Linked DNA regions of Homo sapiens. The protein of the gene in region 2 purifies or fractionates together with the protein of the main gene of each other region. This does not show direct contact. Each region holds a gene or a part of one and is shown on either strand. Other genes may lie near its edges.

Region 1 (4,185 bases), on a different chromosome or scaffold from region 2:
ATTGTCTTCCCATTCCCTGTCACTTCTACCTTCCTCTGTACCCCACATCTAGGATGGCAGCAAGTGAGGGGGCAAATAGAGTTCAACTCCATTATCATTTAGACCAATCTGCACATAAAGAAATAGCCATCAAGATTTAGATTCCAAATTTTCACTCATGCCATTGAAGGACGTTCAGTTGCCTCAAAATTCAGAAAACCAACACTTGCCTCTGTTGGACAAAGGAGGAGACAAAAGTGCAGAGAAGCCATTGAATCATTTAATAGTCTTCATAAATTATGAACCAAAGTTTCATATAGTCTGAAATGTAAGGAAGGAAGTCACTGACAACCATGGATAAAATCCAATTCCTTACAATAAAACAGCACTGAAATTTGCAAATGATCAACCAGATTGAGAAAGCCCTGATGGATATAATGGGCTAGAATGACCAATTACCTCAATGTACTTCCAGGAGAAGCAGACTCAAGTGTTTAGGTGTCATAATCATTAGTAACTTAGGCTGAGCAGGATGATTATATCTACAATAATACATTACACCAGCTCTTTTTCCCCAGGGGCATCAATATGCTAATGAGAAAACTAATGAACAAACTTCATTTAGGTTTAATGTCTCTAAGAATGAAATTTCACAGATTTCAAGTTTTCTTATGAACGGTTTAATAAAAATATATTTCCAAGGTACCCTTCCAAACTTTACTGAGGAGGCAGTCCCCAATCTGTAGGAAAACCATCATAAGACCCGGGAGACAAATGTAAAAATTTTTCCCACCTGCATTTTTAGAGAAGAAACTAACCAATTCTTTACAGCTCTCTCATTGCCCTAGAATTGAAGCAACTGCTTCTGGCAGGGCTTATGAGCAGCTCACCATGGACTGTCACATCCCATGGAGAAATTAATTGGTTTTCATCACTTTATTTCAAAGTTTCTGCTTAATCCCAAACTAGAGATTGTATCTTTTATAAAGCAAATGGCTTAGAGTTTACTCCTTTGTAATGAAGTAATAATCAATTAAGATTGTGAACATTTAATACCTTTGTTTTATTATTTAATTTACTTTTAACAATTTAAGAAAATTGGAGATTCTGCCAAATATTCTACCCTCCCATGTTAGGTGGGGCTGGTACCCTGACTGTCAGGAGGCAAGGTCTGTGAACCTCGTGCCAAATAGCTACGTGAGCAAATAGTGAGATAAACAAGCCATTTGTGGAGACAGAGGTGGAGCTGGGCTTGGTTAGGAATGAATCAGGCCATCCCACAGAGTGGGTGTCTCCTTCCCAAGTTGCTTTCCAGGGCACAATTAAAACCCCTATAAAAGGCCCAGCTCCCAGTTACCCAGTACACTTGCCTGTGGTGTCAGCAAGCACTGTCGACTTCTTCCTCTGGTGAAGTGGGTAAGTCCCATTCTGTGGGATCGTGGTCTTCTTTATGATTCTCCATTTTTATAGCTATTTCAGATGTTGGGATATGGGGGGAGGTTCCATGTGCCAGAAGGTATCAGTATTTTGCAGGGATAAATAAACTATCACTAACTCTATCCCATCTTCTTATGGTTGGAGCCATCACTTGAACTGAAGCATGACCCTTCTCCTTGGGCTCTGAACTCTATACTTCTGCACATCAAGGATGATCATGTGTGGCTCTGATAGGGTTCATCTTCCTAAAAACTGCTATCTCAAAAGTTTGCCAGCCTTCTGTTCTCTTTTACATTGGTTCTACCTAATATGGGCCATCTTCATACAGTCACAGCATTTAAGGTACTGGAGTTGAGAAGTACATAAAGAAGTCAGCTAGATGAACGACTACACTTATCCCACCAGCAAAGCCATTCCATGTATTCTTATAACATTGATCTACTGCTGGCTAATGTTTTATAAAAAGCCAAGATTCCAATGATGCATTTGGGTTTAACAAAACCAATATCATTCACAGTTTTCTGGATTCCGTTTGGTTTAGAAAGGACCTCTCAGAAGCTTTCAATACTTCAATATCCGAATATCTTACTATATCTGAGTTGAGGCAGGTAATATACAGTCTCTGTTTTCTGCATTTGTGTATCTGAATGTTACAATGCCATCTTTTGACTAGGAAGAAGTACTATTTAATCTTAGAATTGCTGACTTACAAATTATATTCTATAAGAGTTCCTAAATCCTTTATGGACTGTAATGTTGAGGAATCATTCATATTCCCTTTTCATTGTTCTATTTTCTACCAACTGTTTTGCTGACATGGCCTCTATCCACTTTAAGATACTCTCAAGTCTTCCTTCACCTTTTGGCTTTTACCTGTCCTCTTCGCTCAACTTTAAAGGAAGGTGTGTAGACATATATAAAATTTTAATTTCTGCACTCTTCTCTTAATTTTCTACTCTGAAATACGGTGGAGAGCTGGAAGAAAGACAGAAGAAAAGGGCATAGATAATCCACATTGGGTGGACAATCAAAAGCTGACAACAGGATAGTCTGAAGATGATTCCCTGGCTTGGAATTTCTCAGGATCGCTCTTTCTCTTTCTGATACAATATTCAAATATTAAAGTGCTCTGAAAGTCCAGGTTGAAATTACCGCTATAAATTCAAATTATTTAGGGATCTGCCTGAAATAGTGTGAATGAAGCCTTCCCAAAAGCAGAAACGGGATTTTGATTCTGGATCTTATTTTATTGTTCTAGGTTTACTTGAACTTGAAGGAAAGAAAAAAAAATGTCTCCACTTCTGAGAAGCATCTGTGACATCACTGAAATTTTCAATCAGTATGTCTCTCATGATTGTGATGGAGCAGCATTAACTAAGAAAGACCTGAAGAACCTCCTTGAAAGGGAATTTGGAGCTGTGCTTCGGGTAAGAACTAACAAGAAAATGAGATCTATTGACTTGAGGCTATGAGATTTATTCTCAGAGGAGACCAGAGCAAGGAATGGTGGTTTTATATTCATTTTACACCACAACAGGTCTACACTACATCCCCCATTCATTTCTGAGTCAAAAGGTACTTACTTGACATTGTAGTCTGAATAATAAAGTATTTCATGTACTTGATGGCATGGCCATGTGAATGAGCTCTTCATGGGACATTACCACAAAAGATGTCAAATCACACTAGACTTGGAGGAACTTAAATTTGTTTCCAAATTTCAAAACTGAGATCAGCCTGATCTCTATTAAAATGGTGCTACCCGTAAATGTTTTGTTCTGTTTTCTAATATGGAATAGAAACCAAATCAAGAATACTGGCTGCTTCAGACAGAAATGGCTACTGCAAATCCTCATAAATTTCTATTGTATCTCTCTCAAGGATGAGTTCATTCTTTCTCAATTAAAGCGAACTTGTGTTATTCTTTCTTGATGTTGAGTAGCTTTGTTAATTTTACACACAAGTTCACGATGCTGTTTTGAATCTTCACCTCAGGCTCTGCCTCTAAGGTGCGTAGGCTTACCTGCTATTCTACTTTGTGTCTCTCTTCCTGCTTCCTTAGGTTTGATCAGCACTAAATTACGAGATGTAAAAATTTCAAACGAATATATGCTTTAAAGTGAGGGTTCACATTTTACATGGGGACAAAACTTGATACACACTGGACATTTTTCTAATTGCTCTGAATGTCTCTTGAATGTCAGCATAGCATAAAATATATCATGTGTGAATATAATTTTACCACCTGTAAATAGTGCATTGTAAAATTTTTGTTTTCACCATTTTTATAGAGACCACATGACCCTAAGACGGTAGATCTGATCCTGGAACTTCTGGATCTTGACAGTAATGGGCGTGTCGATTTCAACGAATTCCTCCTATTTATTTTCAAAGTGGCTCAAGCTTGTTACTATGCTCTCGGCCAGGCCACGGGACTGGATGAGGAGAAGCGAGCCCGGTGTGACGGAAAGGAGAGCCTGTTACAAGATCGCAGGCAAGAAGAAGACCAAAGGAGATTCGAGCCCCGGGACAGACAACTGGAAGAAGAACCTGGGCAACGACGCAGGCAGAAGAGGCAGGAACAGGAGAGGGAGCTAGCTGAGGGAGAGGAGCAAAGTGAGAAACAAGAGCGACTTGAACAGCGCGACAGGCAGCGCCGCGACGAGGAGCTGTGGCGGCAAAGGCAAGAATGGCAAGAACGGGAAGAGCGCCGTGCAGAGGAAGAGCAGCTGCAGAGTTGCAAAGGTCACGAAACTGAGGAGTTTCCAG
Region 2 (3,648 bases):
ACGTGATGCCTCCAGCTTTGTTCTTTTTGCTTAGGATTGCTTTCGCTATTCAGGCTCTGTTTTGGTTCCATGTGATTTTTTTTTTTTTTTTTTGAGATGAAGTCTCACTCTGTTGCTCAGGCTGGAGTGCAATGGCGTGATCTTGGCTCACTGCAACCCCCGCCTCCCAGGTTCAAGCGATTCTCCTGCCTCAGCTTCCTGAGTAGCTGGGATTACAGGCGCGTGCCACCCCGCCCAACCAATTTTTGTATTTTTGGTAGCGACAGAGTTTCATCATGTTGGCCAGGCTAGCCTCTTAACTCCTGACCTCAGGTGATCTGCCCGCCTTGGCCTCCCAAAGTGCTGGGATTACAGGCATGAGCCACCGCGCTCGGCCCTGTGTGAATTTTAAAATGCTTTTTCCTTTATTAATGTGGTGACTCACATTGATTGATTTTTAGATGTGAAACCATTGCTGGAATAAACCTAAGTGATGATATGTCATTCCTTTTACATATCTGGATTAAGTTTGTTAGCATTTTGCTTAGGACATACTGTAGCTGTGTTCATGAAAGATACTGGCTTGTAATTTTCCTTTCTTTTGACATCCTTGTTAGGTTTCAGGGCCAAATTAGGTTAGCCTTGTCAGATGGGTTGGGGAGGGTTTGCTTTTTTTCTGGCGCTGCGATTGTGTAACATTTGAAATTATTTGTTTTTAGACTATTTGGTAGAACTTCTTGATAAAGTCATTGGGACCTGAAGTTTTCTTTGTGAGAAGATGGATTTTCTATAAAATGTCATTAATGGTTATAGGAGTGTTTAGGTTTTCAGATAATTCATTCATTAGTTTTGAATAAATTTCCTATGACTTTTTACATAGTTAAATTTCAGATTATTATAAATTATTGATAATATTTTTAAGTATGTTAATTGCAGATATTTGTCTCATTTGCAGTTAATTTCCTTTTTTTTCAAATATTGTTTGTTTATAAGTTTTAGCTCTTGGAAAATCTTGTCAGAAGTTTTTCACTTTTATTATGTTTTTTCAAAGAATAGTTTTGGTTTTGTTGACCTTAGATATATGCTTATTTTCAGTCTTTATTAATTTCTGCCCTTTATTATTTTCTCATTTTACCTTTCTTTGGATTTAATTTGTAGTTCTTTTTATAGTTTCTTTTTTTTTTTTTTTTTGAGACGGAGTCTTGCTTTGTCACCCAGGCTGGAGTGCAATGGTGCCATCTCAGCTCGCTGCAACCTCTGCCTCCCATGTTCCAGCGATTCTCATGCCTCAGCCTCCCGAGTAGTTGGGACTATAGGCACGCACCACCATGCCTGGCTAATTTTTGTATTTTTAGTAGAGATGGGGTTTCACCATGTTAACCAGGCTGGTCTCCACCTCCTGACCTCAGGTGATTGACCTGCCTTGGCCTCTCAAAGTGCTAGGATTATAGGTGTGAGCCACCACGACCAGCCCCCGCAACCTTTTTTTTTTTTTTTTTGAGACAGGGTCTCACTCTGTTGCCCAGCCTGGAGTGCAGTGGTGTGATCACGGTTCACTGCAGCCTCGACCTCCCAGGCTCAAGCAATCTTCCCACCTCAGCCTCCTAAATAGCTGGGACTACGGAGGTGTGCCACTATGCCCAGCTAATTTTTGTGTTTTTTGTGGAGATGGGATTTTGCCATGTTGCTCAAGCTGGTTTTGAACTCCTGGGCTCACTGTGCCCAGCCTATAAGGAACTCTTATAATATAGAGGTAGATTTTATTCATTATTAATTTGATAAGGTTTTAAATCTGGTCTAACAGTCCTTGTCTTTAAGCTGGAACATTTAGTCTATTTTTATTCATTGTTATTACTAATCTAGTTGGATTATTTCTCCTGACTTACTTTGTTTTTTTGTGTTTGTTTTTCCTATCCTGGTTTTCCTTTCCATTATTTTTTCTCATTACATTATTCCCCTTTACTATTTGGAAATTATATACACTATTTGTTTTTTTAAAAGTTGTTACTCTAGAAATTGTAAAATGCAAGTGTAAAATTTATTCATGTCCAGCTTCTACTCCTGACCATCACAAGGCTATTAGAACACTAATCCCAGTGATTGCTCACCTCCCATTTATGTTATTATTTTTGTGTATTTAGTTTTTTAAAAACCTCATTCTTTTTACTGTGGTATTAAAAACTTTTTTTTAAAGATAGAAGCATTTCTTCTGATTTTTACTGTTTTATACAGTTAACTTGGATTTAACCACATATTTACCAACTTTTTTTGCTCTTTATTCTACCCTGCATTTTAGACCTTCCAACTTGTATCCCTTTCTTTCTTCCTGAACTATATGCTTTGGAATTTCCTTTAGGGAGCACCTGCTGGTCACTTGCTCTTTCAGTTTTTTGTTGTTTGGAAATGTTTTTGTCTTATCCTCAGTCTTCAGCTCGTTATAGAATTCTCTGTTGAGACACCCGCTCCCAGCATAGAAGATATGTTTCCACTGTGACCGGCTTCCATTGTTGCCATTGTGATGGCAGCCGGCAGTCTACTTGTTGCTCTTTAGAAGTCATCTGACTTTTTCTTTGATTGTGTTTAATCTCTGGTATTGTGTGGTTTTATTAGGATGAGCCTAGGTGGATATTTTAGAGTTTATTCTGCTTGAGATTTGATGGGATCACAATGACAGTGATTCGTATCATTTGTCCCCACTGCCAAGCCTCGGTGATACCTCATCCCCTTTTGTAGGATCCCTTCAGGAGACTGCTTTCTGGACTCTTTGCCTCCCATTTCTTTCCTCTACACCTCCATGATGCCAAAGAGGATAATCTCCCTAAAACACAGCTAGGCAACACCATGTTCCTGCTTCAAGACCCTTAGTTTGTAGAGATCCTTCATTTGCAGGATAGAAGTCCATTGTTTTTAGCCTAGCACATTCTAACCCTGTGCCCAGAACAACCACTGGCAAATACGGGGGTGCTAAGTACATCGACATGGAATGGCCCTAGTGATAGGAAATAAAGTTGATGACAGGCTGGATTTGAGGTTTAAGGAGAGGAGGACCAGAGTTCGATGCTCAGGTGTGTGGTATGATTGTGTGGACTGCACCGTCCACACCAGATGATTTGCAAAGAGAAGGACTTGGGAGAGGAAAGGGGCTAAGGAGGTGGAAGGAGAGGATGAGTCTAACGTAGGCTTTGTTGAGGTGCAGATTTGGTGAGATGGAGGATATTTTTCTAGCAGGCAGTTGGAGGGACTGGTTATGAGATGGCGCATTTTCCCAGCCCTGAGGTCCAGTTGAGGATGCTGTTAAAGAACAGCACTGGCTGGGCGTGGTGGCTCACACTGTAATCCCACCACTTTGGGAGGCTGAGGCAGGTGGATCGCCTGAGGTCAGGAGTTCGAGGCCAGCCTGGCCAACATGGTGAAACCCGTCTCTACTAAAAATACGAAAATTAGTCAGGCACGGTGGTGGGCGCCTGTAGTTCCAGCTACTTGGGAGGCTGAGCCAGGAGAATCACTGGAACCCGGGAGGCAGAGGTTGTAGTGAGCCGAGATCACGCCACTGCACTCCAGCCTGGGCAACAGAGTGAGACTCCATCTCAGAAAAAAAAGAAAAAAAAAAGAACAAAAGAGCAGTAATTAGCAGTCTTGTGGATCTCTTATGTGCCAGGTGCTTGGCAA
Region 3 (4,232 bases), on a different chromosome or scaffold from region 2:
GATAGTGAGATTACGGGCAATTTTAATTTTCTTCTTTATACATTTATAAAAATTGTATAATTAGATCAACAAAATTAACCATCTGAAAATGTTCTGTTTTTATAAGTAAAAAAACGAAAAACAAAAAATCCCAAACGAAAAAGCCATGATAAACACAGAAACACACCTCATCGACTCAGTGAAGACTAAAGCCCAGGTTAAGAATCAAGAGTTCAGAAATGTCAACTTCAGCATTAGACATGGCTTTCTCAAGTTCAAGCAAGTTACTTCCCCTTAGTCAATATCTATTAAAAAAAAAAAAAAAAGATGTAAAAGTTGCTTCTTTTATTTCATTGCCTGTGAAGCTCAAGAGGGACAGGCCTGGGCTTAGAAACAACACAAAAAGTGGCAAAAGCTATCATTTATATGAGATCCTTTCCTTGCATTTGTCTCATTAAAAATTTAAAACCATCCTGCTAGGTAGGCATTAATGTTCTCAGGCTCAAAAGCTGAGAGTTGACAGAACTTTCCAAAACTCAAATAGTTGCTATGCTGGAGATATTGATTCAGAAGTCTCTCTGACCTCAGAGCCTTCAGGAAAAGCTACAAAGAAAAGGGCACTTTTAGACTTTATAACCTTGCAAGTCTCTCAATGCCTCTGATCTTTTACATGGTTATCATACCACTCTTATCTAATTTGCAAAAAAGATAAAACGAGAATAAGCTTGGAGCTTTTAGAGAGCTGGAATAAATATCTGGAGAAGCACGATTTAAATTGGGTACTGCTCTCTGGAACTTGCCCCTCATTTCGATTCAACTCAAAGGCTCAAGATCAAAATGCTTGCTTGAGTGGTCACAAGTGAGGGAAACAGTGAGAGACTACGCCCATGTACGTATGTGAAAGACCACAAAAGACTGAGATAAGCATGGCATCTGACCACTGAAGAAGGAAGCTGGACCAGAATGAGGGAAAATGGACAACACTTGGGAGGAAAGGAAGCAAGTGGGAAGGACAAAGTTAAACAGGTAGTGAGAGAAGAGGCTATAGGAATGAGGAGGAACTAGGAGGAAAGAAGTATTTTTTCCCTTCCACCTTTTTTCTCTCTCTACTCTTTTCCTTGATGATCTCAGTCACTATTAGGCCTTCAATACTCCTTTCTGTTTGCATGATTGCCAAATATCTCCATTCTTGCCTTTTCTCCAACTACTGAGCTGGCCACATCCATCTACATTTCCTATTAACACTGTAAATCCAACAGGTCCAACCTGAATTCAGCATCTCCTTCATCTCAAGCCTGCTGCTACTTTTATATGCACTTCTCTTATACTTATCAAACATCCATCTAAACCATTCTCTCTCCCCATATTCTTTCAATCGTTCCTTCATCCAACAAATACTTATTGTGCATCTATTATGTCCGATACATTCAGCCACAGCCCTAGATATATCCATTCACTCATGAAGTCGGGTCATTTCTATCTTGGAAATCTCTTCTCTCACTACCTCATGAGCTGCCTAACTCAACTAAATTTGTCTCTAAGACGTCCTGAGAAACCCTCTTGCTTGAAAAATAATATATATTAACTAGTTTTGCATGCTATTCATTCTATAGTGATCATCTAGCACTTGGCACTGTACCTCGGGCACAGAAGGGGTTCCCAATGGAGGTTTAGGGACTGTAAACCAGCTAGAAAGGGAACAGGGGCAGCAGAAGCTAGGAAACGTCTTGAACGAGTATTTGCATAGGAAGCATGGTAAACTGTATGATCTATACACATAACATCAGCTTGATAATCCTTGTGTTTCCGGGGGATGGCTCTGGGAGGCTGGGGAGATCGTTGGAAGCCTTCTGAGAGAAAGCTCCACCTCCCACCGCTTGAGTAGGTCCTCAACAACCACCTGATGATGTATCACCTTCTGAGGGGACCATGGATATTGTGTTCGCCGTTGTATCCCCGGCCCCTACAACATCTGGCTCATAGTAGGGATTCAATAAACATCGATGCAGGATTCTCGAAAGGCAGATAATTCACCACCTCATGAACGACAAAGACGAAGGGGTTCTGAGGGAAACAGAAATAGCGCGCGAGGTTTCCTTCCCTATTCCTTCAGGGCTTGGTACAGGGTAAGTGCTGAGGAAATAAATCGCCCTCCTGTACAACTCCAAAATCGGGCCCCTCGCTCTGCAGTCAGGCCCTGGAGCGCGGCCACCATCTGGCCCAGGCCCGCGCTTCCCTCCCTCCCAGCCTGGGCTCCTGTTACCTCCCTGCACACATCTGTGTCCACCACAGGCCGAAGAATTACGCGCTCCCGCTTTCCTGCATCGGCCCGGCCAGTACACCCGAGCCCCCACGTCCCGCCGAGGCTCCGAGGACGCCCGCGGCCCCGGCCTGAGACCCCAGCCCCTGCAGCAGGCGCGCCAGGAGCTCGTCCATGTGCTCGGCCGCTTTCCAGCCGCAGTCCTCTCGGGCTTCAGCGCTGAGCCTGGGAGGCCCGGCCTCCCCGGTCCCTGCCCTGGCCCCTGCCCCGGCCCGCCGCGCTCCCCGGGGCCCGAGAGGCCCGGAAGGAGGCAAGGCGGGAAGTGGCTGCAGCTGTGAGGCGCCAGGGGCGGGAAGCGGGCGGCGGGCCCAGCCGAGGGTCGCGAAGACGCGCGCCCCCAAACGAGGCGACGCTCACTCACCACGGTCCGGCGGGGCAGCGCGCCGGAGGTTCGCGACAGGGCCCGGCGCGGCCTCCGCGACCGGCCCGGGCGGGCGCCCCCGGAGCTCTCAGAGCCGCTGTCGTCCGAGATCACGATGAAATCCTCCATGGCTGCGGGCCCCGACCGAAGACCCAGGCAGTGGCGGCGGCGGCGACGACTTCGGTTCCTGCTTCTGAGGTGGCGGCGGCGGGGCGGCGGCAGCGGCGGCGGCTACAACCCGGGCCACCGCCACGCCGGCCCCGCCCCGAGCCCCGCCCCGCCGGGCCGCCAAGCCCCGCCCACCGGCGGCGGGCGGCTGGGGTCAGGGCCGGGGTCGCTGTGCTTCGTGGCGGCGCGGGTCCTCCGTTTCCCAGGAGGAAAAAAAAAAAGAAAAATGGAGTCGCAGCCGGCTTCGGCAGGTGTTGGGGCCAGGCGTGCGAGACGCCGAGGCCGCGGGGACTTCCCCACCTGCTTCCAACCGACGAAAGCGTGAAGTGAGGCGCGCCCAGTCCCACCCTGCCCAGGTGTGAAGCGCCTCCCGGACTGAGAGGGCCTTGACTGAGGGGCAGGGAGAGAGGTCCTGGCCCCCGAGTGACCGAGGGTAGGTGACCTGGCTTCTGGCCGAGCTAAGGGAGAGAGAGAGACCCCACTTTTTGGTGCACACGCCCATGTGTATCTGTAGGATAAATGCCTAAAAGCGGACTTATTGGGGCAAAGGCCATGTTTTTGTAGTTTTGATAAATGATGCCAAATTACCCTCCTAAATTGTACCAGTTTGCGATTTCACCAACAATATGTGTCTCTCAGGAGTTTAAACTGAGATTTAGAGCAGGGGTGTCCAATCTTTTGGCTTCCCCAGGAAGAAGAATTGTGTTGGGCCATACATAAAATACACTAATGATAGCTGATGACCTAAAGGAAAAGAGTTGCGAAAAAAAAAATCTCTTAATGTTAAACAGGGAGTTAAACAAGTTTGACGTAGACAGTTGTTCAGTTGGTATCAGGATCAGAAGCTGAAAAGGTGCACAAAAGAAGCCATGAAGTAGCAGAGGCCATGAATAATTAGATGTTGTGAATAAGCAGAAGTTATAAAGGTGAAAAAGGTTGTCCCCAGTAGAGGAATCGGTGGGTAGTTGGCTGGTTGGTTGGTTTTAGGGCAGGACCATTAAAATCAAGATAGGACCTATTGGTACACTAAATGTGGGGTATTGACAAAATCCTGCTGCTCAGGCTCCAGAAGTTTTGCAAAATATGTTAACAGATCCAAAGAATAATGTGTTTAATAGGAGGGGAATTTGTTCCTAAAGGAATGGTTATCAGGTGCTCTCCAAGCACTGTCTAATGCAGTGTTTTTCACACTTTGGTGAGCATCAGAATCCCCTAGAGTGTTTGTTAAGACAGATTGCGGCCGGGTGCGGCGGCTCACGCCTGTAATCTCAGCACTCTGGGAGGCCGAGGCGGGTGGATCACTTGAGGTCAGGAGTTCGAGACCAGCCTGGCCCACCTCGTCTCTACTAAAAATACAAAAATTAGCTGGGCATGGTGGCAGGCGCCTGTAATCCCAGCTACTTG

What was found.
Region 1: the proteins of NSMCE1 (region 2) and TCHH purify together in Homo sapiens (affinity purification with mass spectrometry; one large-scale study listed by BioGRID and IntAct). This does not show direct contact.
Region 3: the proteins of NSMCE1 (region 2) and SIMC1 purify together in Homo sapiens (affinity purification with mass spectrometry; 3 studies listed by BioGRID and IntAct, with this or other methods). This does not show direct contact.

What each region holds. Positions count from the first base shown.
Region 1 is NC_000001.11:152,112,601-152,116,785, reverse strand, and holds the start of TCHH (trichohyalin), read left to right. Parts: upstream 1-1,341; 5' UTR 1,342-1,395; intron 1,396-2,674; 5' UTR 2,675-2,705; coding exon 2,706-2,843; intron 2,844-3,707; coding exon 3,708-4,185. UniProt on the Homo sapiens protein: Intermediate filament-associated protein that associates in regular arrays with keratin intermediate filaments (KIF) of the inner root sheath cells of the hair follicle and the granular layer of the epidermis.
Region 2 is NC_000016.10:27,258,689-27,262,336, reverse strand, and holds part of NSMCE1 (non-structural maintenance of chromosomes element 1 homolog), read left to right. Parts: intron 1-3,648. UniProt on the Homo sapiens protein: RING-type zinc finger-containing E3 ubiquitin ligase that assembles with melanoma antigen protein (MAGE) to catalyze the direct transfer of ubiquitin from E2 ubiquitin-conjugating enzyme to a specific substrate.
Region 3 is NC_000005.10:176,237,066-176,241,297, reverse strand, and holds the start of SIMC1 (SUMO-interacting motif-containing protein 1), read right to left. Parts: upstream 2,875-4,232; 5' UTR 2,790-2,874; coding exon 2,661-2,789; intron 1-2,660.